4 separate regions of the Homo sapiens genome follow, and regions 1, 3 and 4 are each linked to region 2. Evidence: fine-mapped expression QTL. A gene starts in region 2. Each other region holds a variant in brackets. All regions are shown on one strand. Distances are between the middles of the regions. Region 1 has its middle 9.5 kb from the start of CKMT1A. Region 2 holds the start of STRC (stereocilin). Region 3 overlaps PDIA3 (protein disulfide isomerase family A member 3). Region 4 has its middle 4.4 kb from the start of PDIA3.

What was found. PIP is the estimated chance that this variant, and not a neighbour inherited with it, causes the effect.
Region 1: its variant is the best candidate, but not a certain one, in a credible set for the expression of STRC in nasal epithelium (TOPMed, PIP 0.76).
Region 3: its variant is the best candidate, but not a certain one, in a credible set for the expression of STRC in whole blood (TOPMed, PIP 0.69).
Region 4: its variant is the best candidate, but not a certain one, in a credible set for the expression of STRC in whole blood (TOPMed, PIP 0.61).

The regions. Positions count from the first base shown.
Region 1 is chr15:43,699,364-43,707,431 of GRCh38, reverse strand. It overlaps the pseudogene STRCP1 and the pseudogene RNU6-353P. Among named protein-coding and RNA genes, the nearest start is that of CKMT1A, 9.5 kb to the right of the region's middle. The variant G/A (reference allele first, on the strand shown) is at 3,844.
Region 2 is chr15:43,614,150-43,622,217 of GRCh38, reverse strand. STRC (stereocilin) reads left to right here and starts at 3,418. Exons shown (of 29, transcript NM_153700.2): 1 at 3,418-3,559; 2 at 3,862-4,647; 3 at 4,736-4,760; 4 at 5,528-6,785; 5 at 7,742-7,804; 6 at 7,906-8,022. The coding sequence starts at 3,496. RefSeq lists an enhancer at 6,008-6,881.
Region 3 is chr15:43,748,852-43,756,919 of GRCh38, reverse strand. It overlaps PDIA3 (protein disulfide isomerase family A member 3), which reads right to left. Exons shown (of 13, transcript NM_005313.5): 2 at 3,018-3,096; 3 at 154-271. Among named protein-coding and RNA genes, the nearest start is that of PDIA3, 6.4 kb to the right of the region's middle. The variant G/C (reference allele first, on the strand shown) is at 4,932.
Region 4 is chr15:43,737,979-43,746,046 of GRCh38, reverse strand. It overlaps the pseudogene CATSPER2P1. Among named protein-coding and RNA genes, the nearest start is that of PDIA3, 4.4 kb to the left of the region's middle. The variant A/G (reference allele first, on the strand shown) is at 4,013.

The sequences.
Region 1 (8,068 bases), 85 kb before region 2:
GAGCTACAGCGGAGGATGGCAATGCCAGAACCAGAATGGACAACTGTAGGGCCAGAACTGAACGGGCTGGATAGCAAGCTACTCCTGGACTTACCGTAAGTACTGCAGCTAGAGATATTGGCCCCTCAGAAAGCTCAATCTGGGGTGAAGATCTGCCCTTAGGGAATGCCCTGGAGGAGGTAGTTTTTCTGTCTGGTAGTTCCCTGACATAATTTATAGCCCAAAGCAGAGGATTTTATTCAAAGTTGCTCTATGTATTGACTGGTTCCCAGAATATGCTCCAGCACAGGGCAGCTGAGGGTGGCAACACTGTATTGAAGCCTGCCAAGTAATCTTACAATAACCTAGTCCACATTAATTGAGATTGAGACAGAGCATCTGAAGTGAGGGAGGCAATGCTCCAAATCTGCCCCAGAGGATTGTAGTTTGCTCAGGGCACTGTGTTCTTAGTGCATTCAGAGGAGTGGATCGAGAGAAAAATATATGAAAAATGTGATAAATACCTTCAAATACCTGAGGGGCTATCAAGTAGAAATTAGATTGTCATATTTATGAGTGGCCCCATTGGGCAAGACTAAGAGTAGTTAACGGAGATCAGATTTTTACATAGTATAAGAAAAACTAAGGTAGTGAGTTCCTGGTCCTTGGAGCTGTTCGAGCCTAAGCCAGATGGCCCCATGGCAGGAATGTTGTAGAGCACGTTCATATACAGGTTGTGGGAAGAAAAGGCTATAGGAACCCAAGGCTCCTCCCTACCCATGGAGAAATTTATTAGTATGTTACTCATATGCTGCTTTTCTCATTTTACCCCTACCACCACCCCGTTGCCATCCGCACTGTAAGTCAGGATAGGAAAATGCTGGTGTTACAGTCTTCCTGGGGAATATGGAGCTGAAGTGGAGTAAAAGCAGTTGACTTCATTCTTACTTTTTTCTTTTTCTTTTTTTTTTTTTTTTTGAGACAGAGTTTTGCTGTGTCACCAAGGCTGGAGTGCAGTGACGTGATCTCGGCTCACTGCAACCTCCATCTTCCAGGTTCAAGCAATTCTCCTGCCTCAGTCTCCCGAGTAGCTGGGACTGTAGGTGTGCACCACCATGCCAGGCTAATTTTTGTATTTGTTGTAGGGACGAGCTTTCACCATGTTGGCCAGGCTGGTCTTGAACTCCTGGCTTCAAGTGATCTGCCCACCTCGGCTTCCCAACATTCTTATATTTTTATAGGCCTTTCCACAGATTTCAGCTCTTGTATGACTTAGCCCAGTTCCAGAACTGGTAATCCTAGGTAGGGTACAGGTTATCACCTCTGATTTCGGGTAAAAGGGATTTATTTATTTATTTGTTTATTTATTTATATTTTTGAGACAGAGTCTCGCTCTGTCACCCAGGCTGGAGTGCAATGGTGCCATCTCGGCTCACTGCAACCTCTCCCTCTGGGGTTCAAGCACTTCTGCCTCAGCCTCCTGAGTAGCTGGGATTACAGGCGCGTGCCACCACACCCGGCTAATTTTTGCATTTTTAGTAGAGACGGGGTTTCACCATGTTGCTCAGGGTGGTCTCGAATTTCTGACCCTGTGATCTGCCTGCCTCGGCCTCCCAAAGTGCTGGGATTACAGGCATGAGCCACTGCGTCCGGCCTGTTTTTACTTTTTTTTAATGCCATTCAGATCTGTTTAAATATGTGGGTTCTGTGAGATAATTTAGAATCCCAAGGTTACAGATGAGGTGAAAGATCCTAGACCATGCATCAAAAAACTTGAGTTTCTCATTTGTGAAAGAAGGATAAGAGAAACACCTATTTTGTCTGGGTGCAGTGGCTCATGCCTATAATCCCAGCATTTGGGGAGGCCAAGGTGGGTGGATCACGGAGGTCAGGTGTTCAAGACCAGACTGGCCAACATGGCAAAACACCATCTCTACTAAAAATACAAAAGTTAGCTGGGCGTGGTGGCACGTGCGTGTAATTCCAGCTATTCGGGAGGCTGAGGCACGAGAATTGCTTGAACCTGGGAGGTGCGGGTTGCAGTGAACTGAGATCGCAGCACCACTGTGCTCCAGCCTGAGTGATGGAGTGAGGCCAGGTCTTGTTGTAGGATCAAATGAGATAACACCTGAAAGAACTTTGTAAATTGTATAGCACGTACAAACAAGAAGGGACCTCTTCACAAGCAGAGGAAGGGTGGTCCTGTGGAAAAAAACGGGAATTGGGAGTGAGAGACCTCAACATTTGATCTCTGTGAACCTCAGTTTTTTAATCTATAAAATGGGGAAATGTTAATGGTACTTAATATTTGGAGCTTTTGAGTCCATTAGATCAGGTAGGATTGTTCGTTATTTTTTTTTTTTAGGAAGACTAGAAATATGTTGCTCCCTTTTTCTCCCCCACTCAAGCTTGATGGTGGGAATTGGCCCTGGAGCTGTTTACTGTCAGTTCCTGTCCAGCTTCACTAAATTTGGTCTGGGGTCACATCTTAGCTGGGGACTGTGGGGTTCTGTGGTCCCTTCTCGACTTGGCCCAGCTCCACTTGAATGATATTGTTGTCAAATTGCTATAATAGAATCCAGTTGATGGACAGACTATCCAATGAATCCATTATGTTGGTGGTGGAGCTGGTGCAAAGAGCTCCAGAGCAGCTGCTGGCACTGACCCCCCTCCACCAGGCAGCCCTGGCAGAGAGGGCACTACAAAACCTGGTAAGAGTCCACCCTACCAGACTCAGATTTGCTGCCCTGGGCAATTCTTGCTCCTCAGACAATGCTCTCTGACTGTCCTCCAACCCTCTACTTCTTGCTTTCTTGCTGCCAAACAGGTTCCTGTCTACAAGGCCTGGCCCGTTTTGCCTCTGGGTTCTGTTCCTTGATAATATGCTTCACGTTACTTGTCCATACCTCTTGGAGTCCGAGAAATCTCTTGGAGTCCACCTCTCAGTCTTTCTGCCTGCTCCTATCTGGTCTCATTGCTTAAGAAAGTGAACAAAGGTAGTGAGCATCATAGGGTGCTGAGTTGGGAGCAGGAGGGAGGGAAGGTCAGGGGGCTTGGTGTCTTGATCAAGGTGTCTGGTATTCTGAGTCAGAAGTGCATTGTCCAAGTTCTGATGCTCTTCTCCAGGCTCCAAAGGAGACTCCAGTCTCAGGGGAAGTGCTGGAGACCTTAGGCCCTTTGGTTGGATTCCTGGGGACAGAGAGCACACGACAGATCCCCCTACAGATCCTGCTGTCCCATCTCAGTCAGCTGTAAGGCTTCTGCCTAGGAGAGACATTTGCCACAGAGCTGGGATGGCTGCTATTGCAGGAGTCTGTTCTTGGGTATGGATCTTCGAGAACTTCAGATTCTAACTCATTCTATACCCAGTCCCTCAGCCACCATCATCAGTGGCAGCCTGTTCCATATTCCTAAGGGCCCTTGGAGCCCTGTGTCCGAAATCCTAGCATGTCCTCTTTTCCCCTTCCTTTTCCTCACAGTTCCCTCAGCTCCCCAGCCCCCGATTTTCTTCCTGTCCCCAGGAAACCAGAGTTGTGGAGCCAGGATGAAGTAGAGCAAGCTGGACGCCTAGTATTCACTCTGTCTACTGAGGCAATTTCCTTGATCCCCAGGGTGAGATGAAGGAAGAAGGGAAGGGAGTAAATGCATAGAGGGGACTGGTGAGCTGGTTATGGGGACCCGTGGCCAACGAGGGCAAAGGATATGAAGCCTAGATCTGGGGGGATACTGCGAAACAGAGACAGGACTTTGGACTTATAGCTATAGCAGCAGGTCCTGATCTGTCCAGATCTCCCCACTCTCCTTCTACCTTCTCATGCAGGAGGCCTTGGGTCCAGAGACCCTGGAGCGGCTTCTAGAAAAGCA[G/A]CAGAGCTGGGAGCAGAGCAGAGTTGGACAGCTGTGTAGGGGGCCACAGCTTGCTGCCAAGAAAGCAGCCCTGGTAGCAGGGGTGGTGCGACCAGCTGCTGAGGATCTTCCAGGTGAAACTACCCAAATACTTATATGTCCAGCAGGATGTACAGGGAGTATCAAACGGTCTGGGTTCTACATGTGCTTTTCTCTGGGACTGGGTTTTCTAATTTATAAAGCAAAGAGTTTAGAGGGATGATCTTCAAGTCTCGTCTAGTTCTAAAATTCTATAGCTCTGGGAGTGTGTAAACTATTAAGTTTTCCTTTAGCCCAGAACTTCCATTTTCCTGCTGTCTTGTCTCTTTAAACAGCTGACTCAGCTCTAGCTCGGCTAAGTGTGGAGCTCTCTGCTGGGGAGATCCCTCGAAGGAGACATTGTGAGGCTAGAGAACTGGTTTCAAATTCAGCTCTGCCATGAAATCCCTGACCAACATCCTCAGTCTTCCATCTATAAAATGAGGGACTTGGCATCTCCAATCACTTCTTGTTCAATTCACTTCTAAGCCCTATACATCTTAACCTGTAATACTCCCTCGATCCCTACTTCCCACAGTGCTCCATCCTCCAAAGGTTGGAAGAGTCATTCCATCTACAGATACCTCCTGGCCCTGCCTTCCCCCTTCAGAACCTGTGCCAAATTGTGCAGATGTACGAGGGACATTCCCAGCAGCCTGCTCTGCAACCCAGATTGCTGAGATGGAGCTCTCAGACTTTAAGGACTGCCTGACACTATTTGCAGGAGACCCAGGACTTGGGCCTGAGGAACCACGGGCAGCCATGGGCAAAGCAAAATGGGTCAGGGACGGAGAGCCAACTGAGGTTGGCCATGAGGAAGCTGTGTGGGTGTGATGTAGGACACGAAGAGAATAGAGAGTTGGATGAGAGGTGGGGGAAGCAGAAGATAAAAGAGTTAGAAGATTTGGGTCACAAGTAGAAGGTGAGGAGAGATAAATATTGAGGAAAGAGAGCTACTATAATGAATAGAGGGACTAAAGCAGTGATTACCAAATTTTAATGCATATCACAATCATCAAGGGAACAGATTTTTTTCTTTTTTCTTTTTTTTTCTTTCTTAAAAAATAATGGCATACTTCATGAATTTGTGTGTTATCCTTGCGCAGGCGCCATGCTAATCTCTGTATCATTCCAATTTTTTTTTGTATATGTGCTGCTGAACCGAGCACGGGAACAGTGCCAATGCTGGATTACCATGCTAGACTGACTTAATAAAAACCTTTGCGGAGGCTGGACGGAGTGGCTCGTGCCTGTAATCACAGCACTTTGGGAGGCTGAGGCAGGTGGATTGCTTGAGCCCAGGAGTTTGAGACCAGACTGGGCAACATGGTGAAGCCCTGTCTCTACTAAAAATAGAAAAAAAATTAGCTGGGTGTGGCGGCACATGCCTGTAATCCCAGCTACTCAGGAGGCTGGGGTAGGAGAATCCCCTGAGCGCAGGAGGTGGAGGGTGCAATGAGCCAAGATCACACCACTGCACTCCAGCCTGGGTGTCAGAGCAAGACCCTGTCTCATAAATTAAAAAATAAGCCTCTGGGAGAAAGTCTAGACATCTGCATCTGCTTTTTTTTTTTTTTTTTTTTTTGAGACACAGTCTCACTCTGTCACCCAGCATCCAGGCTGGAGTGCGGTGGTGTGATCTTGGCTCACTGTAACCTCTACATCCTGGGCTCAAACGATCCTCCTGCCTCAGCCTCTCGAGAAGCTGGGACTACAGGTGCACACCACTACACCTGGCTAATTTTTGTATTTTTGGTAGAGATGAGGTTTCGCTGTGTTGCCCAGGATGGTCTTGAACTCCTGGGCTCAAGCATTCCTCCCACCTCAGCCTCCCAAAGTGCTGGGATTACAGCTGTGAGCCACTGTGCTGGGCCCCAGGCATCTGCATTTTAATAAGCGTCTCTGTGTCTGATGCACATAAAAGTGTGGAACTCATGGACTAGAGTTAGTTTGCTCTTCTTTTCCACTGATTGTAATGTCTTTCAAAACACCTTAGAGGAACTGTAAGGCAACGGTCTCATTTTATAGTGGAGGAAACCAAAGAAAAGGCAAGTGACTTGCCTAGAGTTATACAGCTAAGGTCAGAGGCAAGACTTAAAACCCAGCATTCTGACTCCCAATCTACTGGTTTTCCACTCACATTGTTCCTCTCTTTCTCCTAGTTGTGGGGTCCCCCCCGGGGATTTGGTCCTGAGCAGATCCTGCAGCTCGGTAGACTCTTAATAGGTCTGGGAGATCAGGAACTACAGGAGCTGATCCTAGTGGACTGGGGAGTGCTGAGCACCCTGGGGCAGATAGATGGCTGGAGCTCCACTCAGGTAACACTTTTACTCCTCCCTACCGCTTCCCAAACACCCATCCCACAGACCCAGCCCTATAGATCATCTAAAGCCCAAGGAATTTTTTCCTGTGACCCTACCTGGTCATTCTTTCTGTCTTTTGTTAATATCCCATACTAGTGACCTTCAGGACTCTTGATTTATTCACTCTGAGGCCCTGGACACATAATACTGTCTCCTACCTCTTTTCCTGGAGGCTTCCTCTTTTTCTTTCCTTTTCTTTTCTGAGTCCTCAGCCTTCCCCATGACTCCTTAGGTCTTAATAGTAACAGAATATAACCCAGTAACACCTATCACTTCCCTGTCCATTAATTCTCCATAACTTTCCTCCTTCCCCTCTTCTCCCACCCCCCACCCCAGCTCCGCATTGTGGTCTCCAGTTTCCTACGGCAGAGTGGTCGGCATGTGAGCCACCTGGACTTCGTTCATCTGACAGCGCTGGGTTATACTCTCTGTGGACTGCGGCCAGAGGAGCTCCAGCACATCAGCAGTTGGGAGTTTAGGTCATTTGTGAAGGGGCTGAGGGTGGTCGTGTTCAGGTAAAGGTGGACTTGCTGGGGAAAGGAGGATCATGAAGTTATAGTCCCATGGAGGAAGGGAACTCATTTGAAGCCATCTCTTCCTTTGTCTCATGACCACAGTCCCTTTCACTGAAGCCGAATTCTTCTTCCTTCCTTCCCACTGTTCTACAGCCAAGCAGCTCTCTTCCTGGGCACCCTGCATCTGCAGTGCTCTGAGGAACAACTGGAGTTTCTGGCCCACCTCTTTGTACTGCCTGGTGGGTTTGGCCCAATCAGTAACTGGGGGCCTGAGATCTTCACTGAAATTGGCACCATAGCAGGTGGGGAGCTGGGCCACTGCTGGTGCAAGTTGGTTTGGTTTCTATACCATGGGTGGACTGGATGGAAGACTGCCCTGCAATTCTTCAGGTGTGGGCCTGAGAGGGTGTTTAAATAAGGGGCTAGAGACATATTGGGGAAGGTCTATGATAGGGCACTTTGGGAGTAGTTAGAGAAGGTCTATAGGTTTGAAGAGAGGGAAGGTCAGTCTAAGACAATGTTTGGATGCCACTTGCTTCAACAGCTGGGATCCCAGACCTGGCTCTTTCAGCACTGCTGCGGGGACAGATCCAGGGCGTTACTCCTCTTGCCATTTCTGTCATCCCTCCTCCTAAATTTGCTGTAAGTATTAATGGACTGGGGTGACCACAGGAGAGCCAGGGCCCAATGGGGACTACATGCATGCACTGATTCCTACCCCTGCCCTCAGGTGGTGTTTAGTCCCATCCAACTATCTAGTCTCGCCAGTGCTCAGGCTGTGGCTGTCACTCCTGAGCAAATGGCCTTTCTGAGTCCTGAGCAGCGACGAGCAGTTGCATGGGCCCAACATGAGGGAAAGGAGAGCCCAGAACAGCAAGGTGAGTTCCCAGCTGCACAGCTTGATCCTCCATCTCCTGACCCAGAATCAAACCCCTAATTTGGTGCTGTCTGGCTCTTAGAGTGCACCCAGGGAGATCCCTGGAGTGAAGGAGTCTACAGGCAGAGCGCTAATTTCCAAGTATCAATGCTCCTGGAGAGCTGAGTTGTGATATTACTCCCATTCCCTGTCTATTATAGGTCGAAGTACAGCCTGGGGCCTCCAGGACTGGTCACGACCTTCCTGGTCCCTGGTATTGACTATCAGCTTCCTTGGCCACCTGCTATGAGCCTGTCTCTACAGTAGAAGGAGATTGTGGGGAGAGAAATCTTAAGTCATAATGAATAAAGTGCAAACAGAAGTGCATCCTGATTATTTTCAGAAGCTGATGAGGAATATGGGTAAAATGTTAA
Region 2 (8,068 bases):
CCAAAGCCAAACCAAAAAAAGAGAAAAATAATTGTACTTTACAAAGGGAGGCATCTGGCTGAGCATTGTGGCTCACGCCTGTAATCCTAGCACTTGGGAGGCCGAGGCAGGCAAATTGCCTGAGCCCAGGAGTTTGAGACCAGCCTGGGCAACATGGCAAAACCCTGTCTCTACAAAAAATACAAAAAATCAGCTGGGCCTGGTGGCACGCACCTATAATCCCAGCTATTCACGAGGCTGAAGCATGAGAATTGCTTGAACCCAGGAGGTGGAGGTTGCAGTGAGCTGAGATCACACCACTGCACTGCAGCCTGGGCGACAGTGTGAGACTCAGTTTCAATTAAAAAAAAAAAGGGAGGCATCTGTTCTTGTCAGGCAGAGAGTGTCCTGTGGGAGTTTTGGGGAGTGAGGATGTTTCAGAGTTCTCAACTCCTGTGGCTCTTCCCAGGTATACCCATTCTAACTGGCAGATCACAGAGTGTTCCAGTTATCACCAGTCTTATCCATTTCATTTTAGCAGGACATATGATTAATTTCTTGTTCTGGACCTTTGTAATTTAAATTTGCTGGTTGTTCTCTGTTTCCATTTGGTCACCTGTAGGTTGGAACTTGTCTTGCTCTTGTTGAACTTTATCAAATTATAAGCAATTACCAATACACTCAAATAGCCTGGTATATGTGCCATAAACCCTAAGCACTTTGCCGTCAGTTTGCACATAGTCTGAATCCTTAGCGGCAAGAGAATTGCTTAATCAATGGCTTACAACAGCAGAACGTGGACTGCCAGGAAAATTTCCATCCTGAGTTAAGGGAATCCTCATTGTTTCTCTCTCTGGTTGACTCAACTAGTTCCATATTTGTTCTGAAGGTCTTTCACTCAAGATACAACTTCCAGATAATCATTTATGTATTCATTAGAACTCCTTTAGTTTCAAGTAGAAAAATTCATCTTGAGCTATTCTAATAATAGTAATAGTAACATAGAGTGAATGTTTATTCTGTACCAGTGTCTGGCCCATAATAAGTGCTTAATCTTTGTTGAATGAATGCTAGACATTGCACTAAGTACTTTAAATGCATTATCTAATTTAATCCTCACAAAAACTCTACACTAGGGTTTTTTCCTTTTTACAGTAAAAACAACAACAGCAACAACAACCACAACAACAAAAACCCAAAAAACCAAAAACAGAGATTTAGAAACTGCCCCAGGACACACAGCTAGTAAATGTTGGAACCAGGGTTTGAACCTAGACCATCTCATTTTTTGCTACCCTATGAGGAAAGAAGGATAATTTATTATAAGAGGGTTGTTACAGAATGAAGGGCAGAAATTCAGAAGGATTACAGGATGGGCTGGAACCACAAAGCTGTTGGGAACTCAGGTCGTATTCTCCCTCAGATTCAACTGTCTGCTTTTTAGACTAGGTGTGGTATCCTTGATGGGCAAAGGGAATATTGGTAAAATTACACAACAGATCATTTCACTGATCTCAACTTTTGATTTGCCTTGGAAAATCCCATCATTGCTCCCAGCTGTCTTTGTGACCTGGGTTAAGTCATTCCATTTCTCTGGGCTTCAATTCCCCTGTCTATAAAATGAGAAGTTCTTACCAGAGGATTCCTCAGGTCTCTTCTGTGATCCTGGGAGGCCGAAGCAGGAGGATTGCTTGAGTCCAGGAGTTTGAGGGTGCAGTGAGCTAGGATCATACCACAGTATTCCAGCCTGGGCCATGGACCAAGACCCTGTCTCTAAGTAAATAAATACACAAAAATAAAACTCTATGATCCTAAGTGAATCTTCTAGATCAGAAGCACATTAATAATGAAGTTCCATGTGTGGATTTGAGGGAGAGAATGGGGAAGGGTTCTAGGGAAAGAAGGACAGAATAAAAGTTTGGGTATAGCTTCAGTGTTGAATTACTATTTAGAGTTGGTATAAAGTGAAGGCCTTTGGGGAGATATAGATGGAGAATGGAAAAGACTTCTAATCCTGGACTGGGGCAGTAGCTCAAGCCTGTAATCTCAGCACTTTGGGAGACTGAGGTGGATAAATCACTTGAGGTCAGGAGTTCAAGACCAGCTTGGGCAACATAGTGAAACCCCGTCTCCACCAAAAAATACAAAAATTAGCCGTGCGCGGTGGCGCATGCCTGTAGTCCTCAGCTACTTGGGAGGCTGAGACAGGATAATCGCTTGAATGAAGGAGGCAGAAATTGCAGTGAGCCAAGATAGTGCCACTGCACTCCAGCCTGGGTAACAGAGTGAGACTCCATCTCAAAAAAAAAAAAAAAAATGCCGCGGTGGCTCACACCTGTAACCCCAGCACTTTGGGAGGCTGAGGTGGGCAGATCACTTGAGGTCAGGAGTTCAAGACCTGCCTGGCCAACATGGTGAAACCCCATCTCTACTAAAAATACAAAAATTAGCTGGGTGTGGTGGCACGTGCCTGTAATCCCAGCTACTTGGGAGGCTGAGGCAGGAAAATCGCTTGAACCCAGGAGGCAGGGGTTGCAGTGGTCAGATAGCCCCACTGAACTCCAGCCTGGGCAACAGAGAGAGATTCCATCTCAAAAAAACCAAAACCAAAAAACCAATAAAACAAAAAACAAAAATGACGAAAAAAGACTTCTAACCCTGACCAGACCAGATTATTTTGAATGAAATCTCTTTCTCTGTTCCATGAGCAGTTCTGTGTGTAGGGAGATCAGTCCCTGTGCATAGTGATTTAATCTGGTTTCTGTCTTCTCAGCTCAGAGTTTTTGATAGGGCTTTCACCTAGGCCACAGAGAAAGAACCAAATGATAGGGGATCCCGGAGGGGGAAGGAAAGACCCAAACATTTGAATGGCCTAATGAGCAAATCACATTTCTCTGGGTCTGTTTCCTTATCCATAAGTGAAAAAGTTTGGTGTATGTGATCTCTGGGGTACTGCTCAGCTCTTGACACTCTGTGGTTCTGGGTAGTAGTTGAAAGCAGCTCTCCTCTTCCTGAATTCTCCATCCTTGGACTGGACCTCTCGTCTGTTTATACCTTGCTGTGCAGTTTGTTTCTCCTGGGCGTCATTTCTTCTTCAATTTCCTCAAATCCTACTTGCTTCTTAGCTCCTTCATATCCTCTTTGTTTTCTTTGCTTCTGCAGAACCCCAGATTACACCCCTGGTCTCCAGTTCTCCATCTCCATGTCTGCCTGTTCCTTTCTGCATCACTGGCTCCTAACTCAAGCAATCTCCTTGGGTTTCTCTGAGGGGCCCCTGGGATCCCCTATCATTAGTCCCTCTCACAGAAGCATACCCTTCTCCAGAGCTAAAGGATCAGATATTCAGCGGCTCAGGTAACAAACCTGCTGTCAGGTTACACATATTGTTTCCTGAAAGACCACACTACAGTGTCAGTGGAGCCTCAGGTTGCCTGCAGTGCCCTGCCCTCACCTGGCTATCCCACACAGGTGAGAATAACCAGAACTCACCTCCGGTACCAGTGTTCACTTGGAAACATGGCTCTCAGCCTCTGGCCCCTGCTGCTGCTGCTGCTGCTGCTGCTGCTGCTGTCCTTTGCAGGTAAGAAGAACAGTGAGCAGAACTGGGGATGAGGAGGAGGGTGGCTGGAAAAAGACTTTAAGAATATGGAGGTGAACCTGTTAGATAGAAGGACAAAGGAGAGAGGCAGAGACTTGTGCAAAAGGGAAAAATGAGGGTTAAGAAAAGCAGGCCAAGACTTACTGTAGGCCAGTGAAAGGGGTTCAGCTCACCATCCCCTCACCTCATCTTTAGATCCAGGTAGGGAACTGTGCTCAGGGGCAGGGTTGAGTTTGGGCTCTGTGTTCCTCTCCTTCAGTGACCTCTGGTTTCTCTCCTTACAGTGACTCTGGCCCCTACTGGGCCTCATTCCCTGGACCCTGGTCTCTCCTTCCTGAAGTCATTGCTCTCCACTCTGGACCAGGCTCCCCAGGGCTCCCTGAGCCGCTCACGGTTCTTTACATTCCTGGCCAACATTTCTTCTTCCTTTGAGCCTGGGAGAATGGGGGAAGGACCAGTAGGAGAGCCCCCACCTCTCCAGCCGCCTGCTCTGCGGCTCCATGATTTTCTAGTGACACTGAGAGGTAGCCCCGACTGGGAGCCAATGCTAGGGCTGCTAGGGGATATGCTGGCACTGCTGGGACAGGAGCAGACTCCCCGAGATTTCCTGGTGCACCAGGCAGGGGTGCTGGGTGGACTTGTGGAGGTGCTGCTGGGAGCCTTAGTTCCTGGGGGCCCCCCTACCCCAACTCGGCCCCCATGCACCCGTGATGGGCCGTCTGACTGTGTCCTGGCTGCTGACTGGTTGCCTTCTCTGCTGCTGTTGTTAGAGGGCACACGCTGGCAAGCTCTGGTGCAGGTGCAGCCCAGTGTGGACCCCACCAATGCCACAGGCCTCGATGGGAGGGAGGCAGCTCCTCACTTTTTGCAGGGTCTGTTGGGTTTGCTTACCCCAACAGGGGAGCTAGGCTCCAAGGAGGCTCTTTGGGGCGGTCTGCTACGCACAGTGGGGGCCCCCCTCTATGCTGCCTTTCAGGAGGGGCTGCTCCGTGTCACTCACTCCCTGCAGGATGAGGTCTTCTCCATTTTGGGGCAGCCAGAGCCTGATACCAATGGGCAGTGCCAGGGAGGTGAGTGTGGCCAGGGCTGGGACTGGGATGTGGCAGGGCAAGGAAAGTGAAATTGGGGTAGTTTTCTTCCTTACTCTTTCCCTCCTAGGTAACCTTCAACAGCTGCTCTTATGGTAAGTAACAGGAGACCAGTTCTGAGGGATTGGGCCTGGAAAATCTGGAGGTGAAGAGCTGAAGACCTCAGCCTCTAGAGAGGAAAACTGATGGGAGGAGTGTAGTTTAGTGGTTTTGGGGTGTGACTGTCTGGGTTGGTGTCCCAGCTCCACCTCTTCCTAGCCATATGACCTTGAGCAGGTTACATAGTCTTTCTATACCTCAGTTTCCCCATTTATAAAATGAGAATGATAATATTAGTTACCACAGAGTTGTTGCACCCGGTTAAATGAGTTGATACTGTGTATGCAAACGACTTAAAACCGTGCTGGCACATAGCGCTTAATAATGTTAGCTAGTAAAGATGGGATTTGGAAAATAAGGACACAGCTGGATTCCTCTACCCCCTTACTACTTCAGTACAACAATGCCAGACAGTAGTTAGACATATTGAGTTGCTGAGCAGATTTCCTAACATGAGGCCCGCTGAGGGTTGTGTTTAAGCTATCTAAAAGCATACGAAGAAAGGAGACAGAAGGGGGCCAGGTGGACAGAAAGAATTCCAACTGGGGCTTCTCCTAGGTGATTTTGGACCTTGGCAGGGCAGCTTTCTCTTTTTTGCCCCGTTGCAGCATTTCAACCAGTAACGCCTAAACTCTCAGGGACCTCGCTTGTAGAAAAGCCTATGCTTGCCATGCCCCTTGAGGGCTCTGAGTCAGGGTCAGAATCTTCAGCTGGAGGAAATGTGAACTGACCAGATCCTGCCTGCTCCTCCCTCTGCACCCAGGGGCGTCCGGCACAACCTTTCCTGGGATGTCCAGGCGCTGGGCTTTCTGTCTGGATCACCACCCCCACCCCCTGCCCTCCTTCACTGCCTGAGCACGGGCGTGCCTCTGCCCAGAGCTTCTCAGCCGTCAGCCCACATCAGCCCACGCCAACGGCGAGCCATCACTGTGGAGGCCCTCTGTGAGAACCACTTAGGCCCAGCACCACCCTACAGCATTTCCAACTTCTCCATCCACTTGCTCTGCCAGCACACCAAGCCTGCCACTCCACAGCCCCATCCCAGCACCACTGCCATCTGCCAGACAGCTGTGTGGTATGCAGTGTCCTGGGCACCAGGTGCCCAAGGCTGGCTACAGGCCTGCCACGACCAGTTTCCTGATGAGTTTTTGGATGCGATCTGCAGTAACCTCTCCTTTTCAGCCCTGTCTGGCTCCAACCGCCGCCTGGTGAAGCGGCTCTGTGCTGGCCTGCTCCCACCCCCTACCAGCTGCCCTGAAGGCCTGCCCCCTGTTCCCCTCACCCCAGACATCTTTTGGGGCTGCTTCTTGGAGAATGAGACTCTGTGGGCTGAGCGACTGTGTGGGGAGGCAAGTCTACAGGCTGTGCCCCCCAGCAACCAGGCTTGGGTCCAGCATGTGTGCCAGGGCCCCACCCCAGATGTCACTGCCTCCCCACCATGCCACATTGGACCCTGTGGGGAACGCTGCCCGGATGGGGGCAGCTTCCTGGTGATGGTCTGTGCCAATGACACCATGTATGAGGTCCTGGTGCCCTTCTGGCCTTGGCTAGCAGGCCAATGCAGGATAAGTCGTGGGGGCAATGACACTTGCTTCCTAGAAGGGCTGCTGGGCCCCCTTCTGCCCTCTCTGCCACCACTGGGACCATCCCCACTCTGTCTGACCCCTGGCCCCTTCCTCCTTGGCATGCTATCCCAGTTGCCACGCTGTCAGTCCTCTGTCCCAGCTCTTGCTCACCCCACACGCCTACACTATCTCCTCCGCCTGCTGACCTTCCTCTTGGGTCCAGGGGCTGGGGGCGCTGAGGCCCAGGGGATGCTGGGTCGGGCCCTACTGCTCTCCAGTCTCCCAGACAACTGCTCCTTCTGGGATGCCTTTCGCCCAGAGGGCCGGCGCAGTGTGCTACGGACGATTGGGGAATACCTGGAACAAGATGAGGAGCAGCCAACCCCATCAGGCTTTGAACCCACTGTCAACCCCAGCTCTGGTATAAGCAAGATGGAGCTGCTGGCCTGCTTTAGTGTGAGTGCTCTGCCAGAGGGAAAGCTCCTAGAACAGTGAGAAGGCCCTCCAGGGGAATTCCTCGAATACTCAGAGGCAGTAGTGTGGGGTAGTAGTTGAAGCACACAGCTCTAGAGTCAGACAGGCTTGGATTCATATCTTGGTTCTGTGACCAGCCTTGAATGAGTTATTTAACTTCTCTGAGCAATATTTTTCTCGTCTCATTTATAAACTAGGGATGATAATGGTATATGAGATAATACATGCTGTGGGCTTAGCACAGTGCATGATACACAAACATGCAATAAATATTACCTTGTTATTCTTTTGGGCTCTTTGACTCTCTCACTTTCTGCACCAGAAAGAAAAAGGATCAAGTTAGAGGACTCTAAATTTTTCCCCTAGAGAGTGAGAATTGGAGGCTGGCAGAATACAGGAAGATAAGGTAGGAATGAGAAAGATTCAGGGACACTACCAATCAGAAGACTTTGGTTCTAGGTTCAACTGTGCCACAAATTAGTGTGATCTTAGGCAAGCAATTTCATTTAGTTTTTCTGGGCTTCAGTTTTTAGTCTGTAGAATGGAGGGGTGAGAATATGTTAAACACCATAATTAATTCACTGAGTGCCTATTATATGCAAGGCACTTTGCTAGGTTCTGTAGGATATATAAAGATTTCTTACTCCATGTTGGGGCCACCTTTTTCAAACCCTGGGCCCAGTAAAATGGAATTAGATAGTCTCATAGTATTTGGTTCAGGTCTACAAGTATTAATTGAGCCAACTATGGACCTGGCATGGGAGAGGGTACAAGAGAAATTAGAGATATGATCCCGGACCTAAAAGAGCTTAATATCTGAAGAATCACACTTGAGATGATGGACAAGCATCCCAGCAAGTGGAGCTGGAATGCCTGGGGGAGCTGCAGGAGAGACAGAGAAGACAGCTCTGTTGGCATATTGTCTTTCTTCCCACCAGCCTGTGCTGTGGGATCTGCTCCAGAGGGAAAAGAGTGTTTGGGCCCTGCAGATTCTAGTGCAGGTAACAGGTGGAGGGCACATGGGTGGGCTGGGTGACAGCCATGGCTGGAGGTCCCTGCCCCGTGAGGTGAGGCCATACCCACCATGACCTCCTATTCGCAGGCGTACCTGCATATGCCCCCAGAAAACCTCCAGCAGCTGGTGCTTTCAGCAGAGAGGGAGGCTGCACAGGGCTTCCTGACACTCATGCTGCAGGGGAAGCTGCAGGGGAAGCTGCAGGTGAGCACTGAGAAAGGGGAGCAAGGGCACCTGGAGCCTAGTGTTC
Region 3 (8,068 bases), 130 kb before region 2:
TAGAGAGGTCTTTTGTTACCACCAAACTGACCTCTTAGATGAGGAAGTTTTAAGACTGAAAGTATACTGTGTAGAAAAACACATTTTTATGTTTCCACTACAAAGAATAAGGTACTTAACATCAGTTTCCAGAATGTAATTCAGGATCCTTACCAGCAGTCCTAGGTCCATCATAAGCACCTGCTTCTTCACCATCTCTAAATATCTTCAGGGTTGGATATCCACTGACTCCATATTTATTACAGGTGTTAGTGTTGGCAGTGCAATCAACCTAAAGATCAAAATACACAAACTATTTTCTTATCCAAGTTTCTGCTGCAGGTTCTTCCTATATTCTCAAAATACTAGGATTGGTCAAATCCTAAGGGGATCAAGGAATTCTTGGCATATATGCCACAGAACATTAGATTTTAAAGGCAGACTGGAGCTTGCCTAACTACATCAGAACTGCCTAAGGAATTCTTTAAAATTGAGATTCCTAGGCCTCACATAAAATGCAAAGTTCCTGTTTAAATTCTGCCCTTGTAGTCTCTATTAGCTAAAGCGGTGGTCTTCATCTTTTTTCTGCCTCAGAACACATGAGGGATAAATCACTTAAATTATTAACAGTGGCTTACTTTGATTACGACTATCACCAAGGGGATATATCGATGGTGGTACATATCCTTTAGGTGTAATGTAATTTGATTTTGCAAATCATCTAGAGCTATTATCAAAGGTACCAACACCTGTACACGTACCCTGAACTAGTTTGAATCTGGGCTATACCATAACATAACCGATCTAGTGAGACCTATCAGGAAGAAGGAAAATAATTTCCCGGAACGAGCCACTTACTCCAACCCAGGCACAAGTACTTTGCATATATTATCTCATTTAATCTCCATAAGATTATGAAGTATGATCCTTATGCTCTAAGATGGGTAAACTAAGATCCAGAAAATTAATTAATGTGTCTATAGTCACACAGGTAGGAATTGTGATTGAATTTTTTTTTTTTTTTTTGAGACGGAGTTTCACTCTTGTTGCCCAGGCTGGAGTGCAATGGCACGAACTCAGCTCACTGCAACCTCTACCACACAGGTTCAAGCCATTCTCCTGCCTCAGCCTCCCGAGTAGCTGGGATTGCAGGCACCGGCCACCACACCTGGCTAATTTTTGTATTTTTAGTAGAGACGGGGTTTCACCATGTTGGCCAGGCTGGTCTTGAACTCCAGACCTCAGGAGATCCACCCGCCTTGGCCTCCCAAAGTGCTGGGATTACAGGCGTGAGCCACAGCGCCTGGCTATGATTAAATTTTTTTCCTATGGCAAGCTGCTTGATAAGATTAAAAGTAATTTCCAAAAATAGCCTTATATATGAACTATTTGGCAGAGGTAAGAGCTTTTAGACTAGAACAACTATGGGTTTACTACAGAATGGCAACATTCTGGAAGCATTACTTTAATTGTAAAAACAAATACCAAGTTTACAGTTGACCATTTGGTTACATTTTCATCAATATCCTCATATCATTTTCGTATTACCATCATTGTGATTATCACATAGCAGTTTAGGGAACTCATTTACTTGTAGATTATTATTATTTTTTGAGATGGAGTCTTGCTCTGTCGCCCAGGCTGGAGTACAGTGCCATGATCTCAGCTCACTGCAACCTCCGCCCCCCTGGGTTCAAGCGATTGTCCTGTCTCAGCCTTCCAAGTAGCTGGGATTACAGGCACCTGCCACCACACATGGCTAATTTTTATATTTTTTAGTAGAGATGGGGTTTCACCATGTTGGCCAGGCGGGTCTCGAACTCTTGACCTCAGGTGATCCGCCCTCCTCAGCCTGTCAAAGTGCTGGGATTACAGGCGTGAGCCACCGTGCCCAGCCTCAATGATTATTTTAACCTTTATAGCTGTACTTCTGCTTTCCATCTTTAATTCTTATTTACCATATACTTTACTACTTTTTTTTTTTTTGAGACAGGGTTTCGCTCTATTGCCCAGGCTAGAGTGCAATGGTTCAATCACAGCTCAGTGCAGCCTCAACCTCTCTGGCTTAAGCAATCCTTCCACCTCAGCCTCTGAGTAGCTGGGACTATGGAAGCCTGCCTGTATCTTTAGTAGAGATGGAATTTTGCCATGTTGCCCAGGCTGGTCTCAAGTGATCTACTTGCCTTGGCCTCCCAAAGTACTGGGATTACACTTTTTTTTTTTTTTTTAAGAGACAGGGTCTTACTCTGTCACCTAGGCTGGAGTCTAGTAGTGTGCAGTGTCTAGTCACTGCAGCCTCAAGCAATCCTCCTGCTTCAGCCTTTTGAGAAGCTGGGACTACAGGTGTGAGCCAACACACCCAGCTTTTTAAATTTTTTGTAGAGATGAGGTCTTGCTTTGTTGCCCAGGCAACAAACTCCTGGCCTCAAGTAATCATCCCAAAGTGCTGGAATTACAGCTGTGAGGCACCATACCTGGTCTATTTTACTTCTTATGCCAGTAATTTCCTTACTCTCACTACTTTTAATTTTTTTTTTTTTTTTTTTTTGAGACGGAGTCTTGCTCTGTCACCAGGCTGGAGTGCAGTGGCCCGATCTCGGCTCACTGAAACCTTCATCTCCTGGGTTCAAGCAATTCTCCTGCCTCAGTCTCCTGAGTAGCTGGGACTACAGGCACGTGCCATCACACCCAGCTAATTTTTGTATTTTTAGTTGAGACAGGGTTTCACCGTGTTGGCTAGGATGGTCTCAATCTCTTGACTTCGTGATCCACCCACCTCGGCCTCCCAAAGTGCTGGGATTACAGGCATGAGCCATTGCGCCCAGCCACTACTTTTAATCTTTTGAAACTACAAGTCAGTTGTGTATTTGCCCAGAAACTAGTATTCGCTCTTCTTAGCAGAATAAGAGTAGAGAAAATGAATGTTAATCTTACAAACTATTTATTACTGTTATTTTTTTCCATGTAACAAAGCTGAGACAACAAACTACTTTTTAAAATACTTCACGTCCTTTAGTGAAGAATCCACCTGTACTTACCTTTGCTAATGGGACTATTCCTTTTAATCTGGTAGCTGCAGCTTCATACTCAGGTGCAAGTCTCTTGCAGTGTCCACACCTATATACGTATTAAAAAAGCCAAATTCTCAGTTTAGTCCTATGAATTTGTTAATGTTGTCTCACTAGGAAGAATCTCAAACTATAATACTACCTTTGAGCTAGTAGACACTTCCAAAAAGCAAAATCATCACATGAACAACATTCATTATTGTTAAAGTAAACCAGAACTCTCAAGAGGTAAAGGTCCTACCCCTAGACTGAGGTTGACTCCATAGTACTGGCTCAGCACAGGGCAGCTCTATTTTCTCAATACAAAGTATAACTAAGTTGTGAAAGCTGTAGTCAAAGGTGTACGCCACATTATTAAAGAGGGTTGAATGGGTTAATGCCCTTTTGACCAATTAATGAGGCTGAATGAAGGACAAAATAGAAATAATCCCATTTCTGATAGAATTCCCCAGAGGAAAATACAATTCCCTGGGAAACCAGCATTGTGGTTGTTAAAAATAGTGACTGAAGCTCACACCTGTAATCCCAGCACTTTGGGAGGCCAAGGCGAGTAGATCACTCGAGGTCAGGAGTTCAAGACCAGCCTGGCCAAAATAGTGAAACCCCGTCTCTACTGACAATACAAAAATTAGCCAGGCGTGGTGGTGGGCACCTGTAATCAAAGCTAATCGGGAGGCTGAGGCAGGAGAATTGCTTGAACCTGGGAGGTGGAGGTTGCAGTGAGCTGACATCGCGCCACTGCACTCCAGCCTGGGTGACAGAATAAGACTCTGTCTCGGGGTGGGGGTGGGGACACAAAATTGTGACTGAAACCCTGTAATGTCTCAAGTATGATATTAAGTCTTTTAGATGGCAGGCCTGATTTTTACAGCTACATAGTTCACCTAGCCATGAGAAGTGATAACAAAACATGTAAACTAGAATACCTTTCCCAGAGGGCCACCAGAAGCACCGGCTCCTCTGCCCAGAAAATCCTAATCAGTGTATATACAGCTAGCACCAGCTGTACATCACCTTTTCAAAAGCCAAAGGGTTGCAGAGGGATCACGTTGAGAAGGTGAGTTCTGTAACCTTCCCGTAGACAGCAAAAATAGAAATATAATAGAGAAGAAACTTGAGCAGATATATTTCAATAGTCAATGGTGTAATTTTATCAAGTGATGGATAACTTGGAAATATTGTACACCTAAAACTTGTTTAAAATAAAGGATTATAACAGCTTATTCTCCAAGGCCTTCAGGCGGCCTATTAAAGTATAAAAGAACCAAATGATAAATACCAAATTCAAGATAAAGGAGTGTATAAGATGGTAAAGGGGCACATAGGGGACTTCAAATGTACTGGCTATGTTTTTCAGACTGAGTGCAAACAAATGCTATTCCTTATGCTGTATTTCAGATTCATTGTTTTTTCCTGATATTAAGATGTATTTTGCAGTCATGTTATAGTTTCAGTGGTAGTATTTCTTTCTCAGTGAGACACAAGATAGTTCCTCTCACAATCAGTGGTATCTTATGTGTGTGAAATAGGGTCTTATTCATTATATCCTCTGTATTCCTTTAATACTGCATAGTAAATGGATTTTAAAGGGAGTAACAATTGGATCTGGGTCTTTAAGGATTTAACGCTTCAGAGAGAAGAGGGCAGGGTATTTAAGATGAGGGAGATAGTAGAGCAAACGTAAAAGAATACCAGTAAGCATGATGCATTCAGAGAACTGTAAAGGGCTTTTGTGAGATAATAAATGTGCGTGCACGTGTACTAAGACTACGTCAATCAGCAATGTCAAAGACTGACAGAAAGGGAGAAAATAGAGACAAGAGTAAAGCCATCTAGAAGATAATATATTTCACATGGCAGACAATAAAAGCTTGGACCGGAATG[G/C]CAGCAATGAGAATAAAGAAGAGACAGATGAGAGATTTCTGTTGAATATATAGTAGTTGTCAAGGCTGAGGCAACAGATTTATGAGTTAATTGTTTCAACTATCTTCAAACATTTTAAGAGAAAAAAATCACATACAATAGTTACTAGGTCAAGCCAGTAGGTGTCAACTCTAGATGCTTATCAAAAATACCCACAGAGCATTAAAACAACAAAAGTATGCATGGCTTACTGAATGAGAATCTCCAGAAATCTGGGGAGCAACCAGGTGTGTGTGTAAGCTGCAAGGCTGGGACTAAAATCCACTGCCTTAAACTTTGGCAATATCCATAAGGTCATCAAATCCACAAAAAGAGTTTCAATGAGGCTGGAGGAGACTCTCCTCTTCAAATCCAGCAGGAATGGAACTCAGGTGGTATTTAAGGGAAATCAGGGTTGGTTAACATACATCCTTCAAGATTAACCACTACTTCTTTCACCCACCCCTAGAAAATATTAAAACACAATTAATTCTATCTATCCTCAGGGATGGCACCTGGCAGTTGATAATGAATTCCAACATATATTCACCCATAATCATCACTTCATCATGTGTGCCATGCGTCAAGTACTTTTTGATAAGTGCCTTATCAAGTGTCTTTGATAAGAAAATTGGTATAGTCCTTTCCTTATAGGAACACCAGTCTGGCAGGGGTGACACAGTATTATTAGATGCCAATAGAGAGGCAGGATCAACCAGTTAGTTGTCCAGGGAAGGAAAAAAAAAATATGAGCTAAATGTTGATGTTGAAAAGATCAACTCGGGGTGGGGATTACAAGTAAAGAAATTAGCACATATATTATTTTTTTTTTTTTTTTCGAGACGGAGTCTTGCTCTGTCACTCAGGCTGGAGTCCAGTGGCATGATCTCAGCTCACTGCAACCTGCACCTCCCAGGTTCAAGCAATTCTCCTGCCTCAGCCTCCTGAGTAGCTGGGATTACAGGCTCCTGCCACCGTGCCTAGCCAATTTTTGTATTTTTAGTAGAGACAAGGTTTCCCCATGTTGGCCAGGCTAGTCTCAAACTCCTGAACCTCGTGATCTGCCCACCTTGGCCTCCCAAAGTGCTGGGATTACAGGCGTGAGCCTTTGCACCCAGCCATTATTTATTACTACTGTCTTAGAGGGTAGCATACACATCTATAGCATAAATAGATGTTGAGGACTTTTTTTTTTTTTGAGAAGGAGTCTCGCTGTCGCCCAGGCTGGAGTGCAGTGGCGTGATCTTGGCTTACTGCAAGCTCCACCTCCTGGGTTCACACCATTCTCCTGCCTCAGCCTCCCGAGTAGCTGGGACTACAGGCACCTGCTACCACGCCCAGCTAACTTTTTGTATTTTTAGTAGAGACGGGGTTTCACCATGTTGGCCAGGATGGTCTCGATCTCTTGACCTCGTGATCCACCCGCCTTGACCTCCCAAAGTGCTGGGATTACAGGCGTGAGCCACCGTGCCCGGCCAAGGACTTAATATTACATATTAACACTAATCAATAAATTTTCGGACATTTCCAAACATTTAAATAGTGTTATTTCCCCAGAGAAATTCAGATACTCTTATCCTTAAAAATATATAGCAGATTAACTCCATAATGGAAATATTAGTCTACAAAATCAACTGCAAAGAAAGCTTTCACTAAGCCAGGCACGGTGGCTCACGCCTGAAATCCCAGCACTTTGGGAGTCCAACGCAGGTGATTCAGGTGAAGTCAGGAGTTCAAGACCAGCCTGGCCAACATGGTGAAACCTGGTCTCTACTTAAAAAAAAAAAAAAAAAAAAAAATTAGCCAGACAGGGGAGGCGGAGGTTGCAGAGCCGGGATCGCGCCACTGCACTCCAGCCTTGGCAACAGAGAGAGACTGTCTCAAAAAAAAAAAAAGCAAGCAAAGCAAGCTTTCACCTTTCACTTTCACTTGAAACATGAAAGCGGAAAAAGAATTTGCTTAAATAGGTCTATTTTGTGACGAGAATAAGGTTAAAAAAAAAAAAGCCCATTTTACTTTCTTTTTTGAGATGGTCTCACACTGTCATTTAGGCTGGAGTGCAATGGTGCAATCTCAGCTTCCTGCAACCTCCACCTCCCAGGCTCAAGTGATCTTCTCCTCCCACCTCAGCCTCCTGAGTAGCTAGGACTACAGGCGTGTGCTACCATGCCCGGTTAATTTTTGTCATTTTTTAGTAGAGATGGGGTCTGGCCATGCTGCCCAGGCTGGTCTCTTACCTCGCCACTGCCTCCTGGGTTCAAGTGATTTTCCCAACTCAGCCTCCCAAATAGCTGGGATTACAGATGTGCGCCACCACGTCCAGCTAATTTTTGTATTTTTAGTAGAGATGGGGTTTCCCCATGTTGGCCAGGCTGGTCTGAACTCCTGATCTCAAGTGATCTGCCTGCCTTGGCCTCCCAAACTGCTGGGATTACAGGAATGCACAACAGGGCCAGACCCCATTTTACTCTTACTAAGGATTTTTTAACTGTTTCTTGTAAGATAGTACTACTGAACTGTACAAAGGAATATAGCAGTCAGAAAACATTTCCAGCTGAAATGTTAATAAATAAAAATACAGAGGCCAGGCTAGGTGGCGCACGCCTGTAATCCCAGCACTTTGGGAGGCCGAGGAGGGTGGATCTCCTGAGGTCAGGAGTTCACCATCAGGCTAACATGGTGAAACCCCGTCTCTACTAAAATACAAAAATTAGCCGGGCTTGGTGGTGCGTGCCTGTAATCCCAGCTACTCAGGAGGCTGAGGCAGGAGAATCACTTGAACACGGGAGGCGGAGGTTGCAGTGAGCCCAGACCATGCCACTGCACTCCAGCCTGGGTAACAGAGCAAGACTCTGTCTCAAAAACAAAACAAAACAAAACAAAACAAAAACAAAAAAACAGGCTGGGTGCAGTGGCTCATGCCAGTAATCCCAGCATTTTGGGAGGCCAAGGTGGGCAGATCACCTGAAGTCAGGAGTTCGAGACCAGCCTGGCCAACATGGTGAAACCCTGTCTCTATTAAAAATACAAAAAAATTAGCTGGGCATTGTGGCAGGCACCTGTAATCCCAGCTACTCGGGAGGCTGAGGCAGGGGAATCACTTGAACCCAAGAGGCGGA
Region 4 (8,068 bases), 120 kb before region 2:
TGAGGCCCAGAAGCGAGAATGGAGGAGAGAAGGAGCTAGCCCCCGAAGGAGTGTTGGAGTGGACACACTTGGGACGGGACCCATTTTCAAAATGTCAGGCTTTGGCATTTTGTCCAATTTCTCTTCACTTGGTTTCTCTTGCGTGGGCAGGCCAAGCCCTCCCCCAACTCCACCTCATTGCCCGATTCTCTCAGGCCCAGGTGGGACCCAGGTTCTTCTTTGTCCAGCCCCGGGCCCCTGCCCTTGTGGCTGCTCCTTTTTTATTGAGTTTCTTGTTTTGTTTTGTTTTGTTTTGTCTGAGATGCCGTCTTGCTCTGTCCCCCACGCTGGAGTGCAGTGGCGCGATCTCCGCTCACTGCAAGCTCTGCCTCCCGGGTTCACGCCATTCTCCTGCCTCAGCTTCCCGAGTAGCTGGGCCTACAGGCGCCCGCCACCACGCCCGGCTAATTTTTTGTATTTTTAGTAGAGACCGGGTTTCACCGTGTTAGCCAGGATGGTCTCTATCTCCTGACCTCGTGATCCGCTCGCCTCGGCATTCCAAAGTGCTGGAATTACAGGCGTGAGCCACCACGCCCGGACTTTTTTTTTTTTTTTTTTTTTTTTTAATGAGCTTTTAATTGGTAGTGCCGTCACAAAGTGAAGATGCCTGGCCACTTGGTCGACTGCTCAATGTCTTTACCACTCTTAGCCCCTTTTGTTTCAAAAAACCCTGAGTCTTAGTAGAATGTTTGTTCTGCCCAACTGCTCCTAGTTCGTAGATGTGGGTACATTAAGGAATCTTAAGGGCAAAGAGGGTGGGGAGGAGGGGACAGAAAACCTGTAATCCTTGGTGCAGCTCCAAGAATGAAATGACACTTGATGCTTACATTTTCTTAGCAGACATGGCCGCTTACCAACAAGAAGGGCAGATGCAGCTTCCCCGAGCTGATGCCATTCGTTCACGTCTCATCGATACTTTCTCTCTCATCGAGCATTTGCAAGGCTTGAGCCAAGCTGTGCTGCGACACACTATCAGGAGTTACTTGGTCAGCAGCCTATTTCTTCACTAATTTAAATTTAAGACTCCTATCCACATCCTCTACATTTAAGAGTGGAAAATTCTGGGGAGGCCGGTTTAGTTGCTGGTTTACCAAACTTGATAAATCAAGGGCTTGTAAATAAAACTAAGGAGATAGAATCCACGTCTTTCACTTTTAGGCCTAGGATAGCCACTAGCCGTGGATGATACGGAACAGTTTCTGTCAAAGACTCTTAAAACTTTGAGAGTGAACCTGCTGCTTTTGTGGGCATGGACAGTGTTGGTCATAAGCAATACATTTGCTCTCACTCCAAACAGAATTCTTAGTTGCTGTGAGAAGAGAAGGACCAGCAGTAAGCCATTAGGGGGACCCATTATCTGAACAGTATCCCTGCCCCCAACCCTACCTGGTCTATTTTGTTTGTATTTATCCACTACCCCTTTTCAATTTTTGTTGTAGATCCTTCCCGCCAGAAGAAACTTATGTTGGGAGATCAACACCAGCTAGTGGGCGTCTCTATAAAGCCTCAACGTATAGAACAGATTTCACATGCCCAGAGGCTGTTGAGCAGGCTTCATGTGCGCTGCAGTCAGAGGCCACCTCTTTCTTTGTGGGCCGGATGGGTCCTTGAGTGTATCCTTTCATGTCACTCATTTTTATCCTGGCTGTTGATCATCTGCCTAATGACTTATTTTTTGCTTCCCAAACTCCATTGTCTCATTCTCACTGCTTATGTTATTGCTCTTATTATTTCAGCTGCATAAATCAGAAAGAACTCCACTCTGTATGTTTCCTTAAGAGACAACAGGTCCTCTCTTCAAAAACTTCATCATCTTCCTGATCTTTTTGAATACGATCGTACTGATGGTTGAAATACGTGAGAACTGACATTGTATGAAAGAGGAAGTGAGGCCAGGCGCGGCGGCTCACACGTGTAATCCTAGCACTGTGGGAGGCCGAGGCAGGCGGATTGCCAAAGCTCAGGAGTTCAAGACCAGCCTGGGCAACATGGTGAAACCCTGTTTCTACTAAAAAATACAAAAAATTAGCTGGGCGTGGTGGCATGGCCTGTAGTCCCAGCTACTCGGGAGGCTGAGGCAGGAGAATCGCTTGAACCCAGGAGGCGTAGGTTTCAGTGAGCTGAGATTGTGCCACTGCATTTCAGCCTGGGCGACAGAGTACAACTCTGTCTCAAAAAAAAAAAAAAAAGAAAAAGAAAAAGAGGAAGTGGGTAGGAGTAATTTTTTTTTTCTAAATTGATCATTTTACATTTTTGAATGTCATTTGAAATGTGACATTTATATTAAGGACAATTAAGCCTCCTGGAGTAGAATTTATGCAACTGCTAAAATCTAGAAATATTCGCTGGGCACGGTAGCTCACACCTGTAATCTCAGCACTTTGGGAGGCCGAGGTGGTTGAATCACTTGAGGTCAGGAATTCAAGACCAGCCTAGCCAACATGGCGAAATCCCATCTCTACTAAAAATACAAAAAATTAGCTGGGCGTGGTGGCGGACACCTGTAATCCCAGCTACTCAGGAGGCTGTGGCAGAATAACACTTGATCCTGGGAGGCGGAGGTTGCAGTAAGCCGAAATCACGCCACTGCACCTGATCTCAAAAAAAAAAAAAAGAAATATTAATATTTGGAGGGCTCTCAAGCGTATACTAGATACAGAGCATCTAGACACATAAAACTAGGTGTAATATGTAGCAATGTAACAAATCCACAAGGAATTGAACTTGGGAAGACCAGTTTTATTTCTGTTGTCAGTTTAGGCTGACAATTGTTTGCATTAACCTTTTCTGTTAAAGATATTGGTGCCTATCGGTGAATGATCTAACATTTACATTTTTTTTTTTTTTGAGACGGAGTTTCACTCGGTCGCCCAGGCTGGAGTGCAGTGGCACGATCTTGGCTCACCACAAGCTCAGCCTCCCAGGTTCACGCCATTCTCCTGCCTCAGCCTCCGAAGTAGCTGGGACTACAGGTGCCCGCCACCACGCCCAGCTAATTTTTTGTATTTTTTAGTAGAGACGGGGTTTCACCGTGTTAGCCAGGATGGTCTCAATCTCCTGACCTCGTGATCCACCCGCCTCGGCCTCCCAGAGTGCTGGGATTACAGGGGTGAGCCACTGCGCCCAGCCTAACATTTACATTTTTACAAGTATATTTAGAAATATTATTCAAGTAAAAATAAGAAAGCTCACAAAGTATGGAAAGGTAGGTACCACTAAGATATTAGCTGAGCCAAAAAAATTACTTAAAAGGAAATGATTCTTAAACCAATAATAAATTATATGAAACATATTCAAAACATAAGGATGTCTGCAAAATCAGTGAGCTCATTTGTTGATAATCTCAAACTGCTCAGAAATGATGAAAGGACAGTAGAACTACTCACTTGTTTCATTCTCACTGTTGTAGAGAAGTCTCCCACTTTATTTTTTAGTGACAGAGTCTCACTTTGTTACTTAGGTTGGAGTATAGTGGTGTGATCATGGCTCGCTGCATCCTCAACCTCCAGAGCTCTATTGATCCTCCCACGTCAGCCTCCTGAGTAGCTTGGACTACAGGTGCATGCCACTACACCAAGCTAATTATGTTGATTTTTTTTTTGTAGAGACAGGGTCTCACTATGTTGTCCAGGCTGGTCTTGAACTCCTGGGCTTAAGTGATCCTCATACCTCAGCCTCCCAAAGTGCTGGGATTACAGGCATGAGTTACCACGTCCAGCCTAGGAGGAATTTTTAAGAGAAGGGCGTAGTTATGAAGCTCTTGGCTGTTTATGTCACACAGATATTTTCCTCAACAGAAGTGTCCAGTGCCGGTAGCCAGTTCAGAACTCTGCCTCTAGCTCCAAGTCCCCTACAAGCTTATCTCTGGGGCCCAGGCATGGTGGCTCATGCCTGTAATCCCAGCACTTTGGGAGGCTGAGGCAGGAGGATTGCTTGAGCTCAGGAGTTTGAGACCAGTCTGGCCAATGTGGAG[A/G]AACCTCATCTCTACAAAAAATACAAAAATTAGCTAGGTGTGGTGGCACATGCCTGTAGTCCCAGCTACTCAGTAGGCTGAGGTGGGAGGATCGCTTGAGCCTGGGAGGCGGAGGTTGCAGTGAGACATCGTGCAACTGAACTCCAGCCTAGGTGACAAAGTGAGACCCTGTCTCGAAAAAAATAGTCCTTTACTGCAGTCAGGTCAAAGATATTTAAATAAACAACAATAATTGATGTCACGGACCCACTACAGTATACTATATACTTTGAGGTGTTTTATTTCCTCCTCATAATGGTGAAGATTTTGAACTAAGTTACTTATAATTCCCTTTTATTGTATGATTGCTGCCATGTATTTGCCTTGCATGGCTAGGATTATAGTACTAAGCCTTGGAATGAAGTAAATAATAGTAACTATACAGGATTTCCTAGATCAGTGGTCCCCAGCCTTTTTGGCTTCAGGGACTGGTTTCTTGGAAGACAGTTTTTCCATGGATGGGGTAGGAGGGAGGTTTCAGGATGAAGCTGTTCCACCTCAGATCATCAGGCATTAGATTCTCCTAAGGGTCACGCACATGCAGTTCACAATAGGGCTTGCCCTCCTATGAGAATCTAATGCCGCAGCTGATCTGACAGGAGGTGGAGCTCAGGCGGTAATGCTCACTCACCCACCACTCACTTCCTGCTGCATGGCCGGGTTCCTAACAGACCATGGACTGGTACCAGTCCGTAGCCTGGGGCTTGGGACCCCTGCCCTAGATCTAATAGACAAATCAAAATAGAATAGCACTAACTATTCTATTTGGTAAAACAGTTAACTGAATATGAAACATGATCACTGTGTCAGAGGATAAGTAGATTGCCAGACTAGAAATTATCTGGCAAGCTCGTGGAAATTTTATCTTATTAAGTTTATTCTTGTGGGAGAAACGGAGGAGGGATTTTGCAGAGGGAAATTATTTGTGATTAACAGATTTCTTTGAACAGACTAATTCATATGATAAACATTAAGACTTTTTTTAGGCTTAAAATTTTTTTTCCAGATCACAAAGCGATCTAAACTGTTAGGGCTTTAAAAAATCTACTTCCACAACTGGATATTGGTAATTCTGTTTTGCACTTTATTTTTTAAATTTTATTATTTTATTATTATTATTTTTTGAGACGGAGTCTCGCTCTGTCACCCAGGCTGGAGTGCAGTGGCACGATCTCGGCTCACTGCAAGCTCTGCCTCCCAGGTTCACGCCATTCTCCTGCCTCAGCCTCCCGAGTAGCTGGGACTACAGGCCCCTGCCATCACACCTGGCTAATTTTGTGTATTTTTAGTAGTGATGGGGTTTCACTGTGTTAGCCAGGATGGTCTCGATCTCCTGACCTGGTGATCCGCCCGCCTCGGCATCCCAAAGTGCTGGGATTACAGGCATGAGCCACTGTGCCTGGCCTCTGTTTTGCACTTTAAACATCAATTGGCTTATTTTTAAAATCTTGTATTTTGTTTCAAATAATGAGAAAGAAAAAATGATTTGACTCATTTGCAAGCCTTTGTCAGAAAATAACACATTGCAAGTGTAGACAATCTCTACTTAAAATTAAAAACTGAGTATATTAGGAGGGTGAGGTGGGAGGATCACTTGAGCCCAGGGGATTGAGGCAGCAGTGAGCTATGATCTCACCAGTGCACTGCAGCCTGGGTGACAGAGCAAGATTCTGTATCAAAAATAAAATAAAACCTAAGTATAATATCATTACAATTTTTTCCCAAAGGTGGGCATATTCCTGAAGATTACAATTTTTTACATTGACTTTTAAAGTCCTAGAGAGGGTTTGATGTGCTATATAAAGTTTTTGGTCATATGAATGGAATTTATAGAATCTGATGAAGATCATCTTGAGATTAAACTTGCAGAATTGTCATTCTTTTTTTTTTTTTTTTTTTTTTGAGACAGACTCTTGCTCTGTCTCCCAGGCTGGAGTGCAGAGACGCCATCTCTGCTCACTGCAAGCTCCACCCCCTGGGTTCATGCCATTCTCCTGCCTCAGCCTCCCAAGTAGCTAGGATTACAGGCGCCCGCCACCACGCCCAGCTAATTTTTTGTATTTTTAGTAGAGACGGGGTTTCACTATGTTAGCCAGGATGGTCTCGAACTTCTGACCTCGTGATCCGCCCGCCTCGGCCTCCCAAAGAGCTGGGATTACAGGCATGAGCCACCGCGCCCAGCCAGAATTATCACTCTTAATGCTCTTCATGAAATTGTATTTCTGGCTGGGCATGTGGCTCATGCCTGTAATCCCAGCAATTTGGGAGGCCTAGTCCTGCGGATCACTTGAGGTCAGGAGTTCAAGACCAACCTGGCCAACATGGTGAAACCCCATCTCTACTAAAAATACAAGAATCAGTGGGTATGGTGATGTGCACCTATGGTTCCAGTTACTCAGGAGGCTGAGGCAGAAGAATCGCTTGAACCCGGGAGGCGGAGTTTGTAGTGAGCTGAGATGGCAGCTGGGCAACAGATTGAGTGAGACTCCATTTCAAAAAAAAAAGAAAGAAAGAAATTATGTTTCAACATCAGTGTTCCTTGTTTCATGATGGATATAACTAGCCAAAACATTACTAAAAATATTAAAACTGTAAATGTCAAAATCTACATAACAGTTTATTGTTACAGTGTACTATTCTCCTCACCTATAGTATTGGACTCCTTGAAACCAATGTGAATTTACCTGGTATTCTGTGAGGTGACCTACTGTTGTTTTTCTAGAATAGGGAGTAGCAATAGATGACTGTTCATGGTGAACTCTACCTTGTAAAACAGAATTATGTATTTGCCTGACTTGCTTGATCAAATGGCTACTGTCTGTCACCCTGAGAAGAATATTGAAACATAGATGTTCACTGCTACTTCACTTCACTGGCTAAGATTCCTGGGTAGACTTCACTGGGCTCCTGGTCTCTATTTCCATTAAGACTCCTTTGCTTTGCTATAGCAGCCTGAAAAATTCCAAGAATTTTAAAAAGTTATTTTTCATCTTCAGAGAGGACACATTACTTGATGTAGAGTGGAGGCAGTCACTTCTGCACATTCTGTGCTGCTGAGGCAATTTCTGCTATTCGTTCCTCTGAACTTCCTTGGGTTTGTTTAGCTTCTATAAAATTATTCATTTTTCCAGAGAGTAAAAGTGCTACTGCTTCTATAATTTGGACTTCCCTACTTAAACTATTTTAAACTACTCAAAACTATATTCTGCTTTACAAGAGCCTTATTTTACTTCATTGCTCTGTTTGGGTTCCTGTTTTGCAAGGGCAAAAACTGAATAAAAATTATAGCATTCTATTTTCCAGCCACAAATGTGGTCCTCAGCTCTTTCTAATTATATAATCCCATGCTCCTGAGAGCTAGAATTTATTGTTAAGTGAAAAAATTTTGTATTTTATTGAATTTAAGCTGTCATCAATGGTGAAATTCACTGTTTACCAATAAGAAATAAAAATCATGCTCAATTAAACTGGGACACATCGCTGGTTGTAAAATGCATCCTCACTTTGGGAGGCCGAGGTGGGCAGATCACGAGGTCTAGAGATAGAGACCATCCTGGCCAACATGGTGAAACCCCGTCTCTACCAAAAATAATAAAATTAGCTGGGCATGGTGGCGCAGAGGCAGAGGTTGCAGTAAGCTGAGATTGCACCACTGCACTCCAGCCTGGAAACAGAGCGAGATTCCATCTCAAAAAAAAAAAAAAAAAAAAAAAGCATCCTAATTTCATGGATGTTAAAATGTGAAATATTGTCCATCTTAGAGAAATGTGCATGAAAGAAAAACTTACGGAAGAAGTACAGAGCCTAAATAAGCATAGGAGTGCTGGGTGCAGTGGCTCATGCCTATAACCCCAGCACTTTGGGAGACCAAGGCCGGAGGATCGCTTGAGCCCAGGAGTTTGAGGCCAACCTGGGCAGCATAGGGAGACCCCATCTCTACAAGTAATTTAAAGAAAAAATTAGCTGGGCATGGTGACATGTGCCTGTGGTCCCAGTTACCCAGAGGCTCTTGAGCCC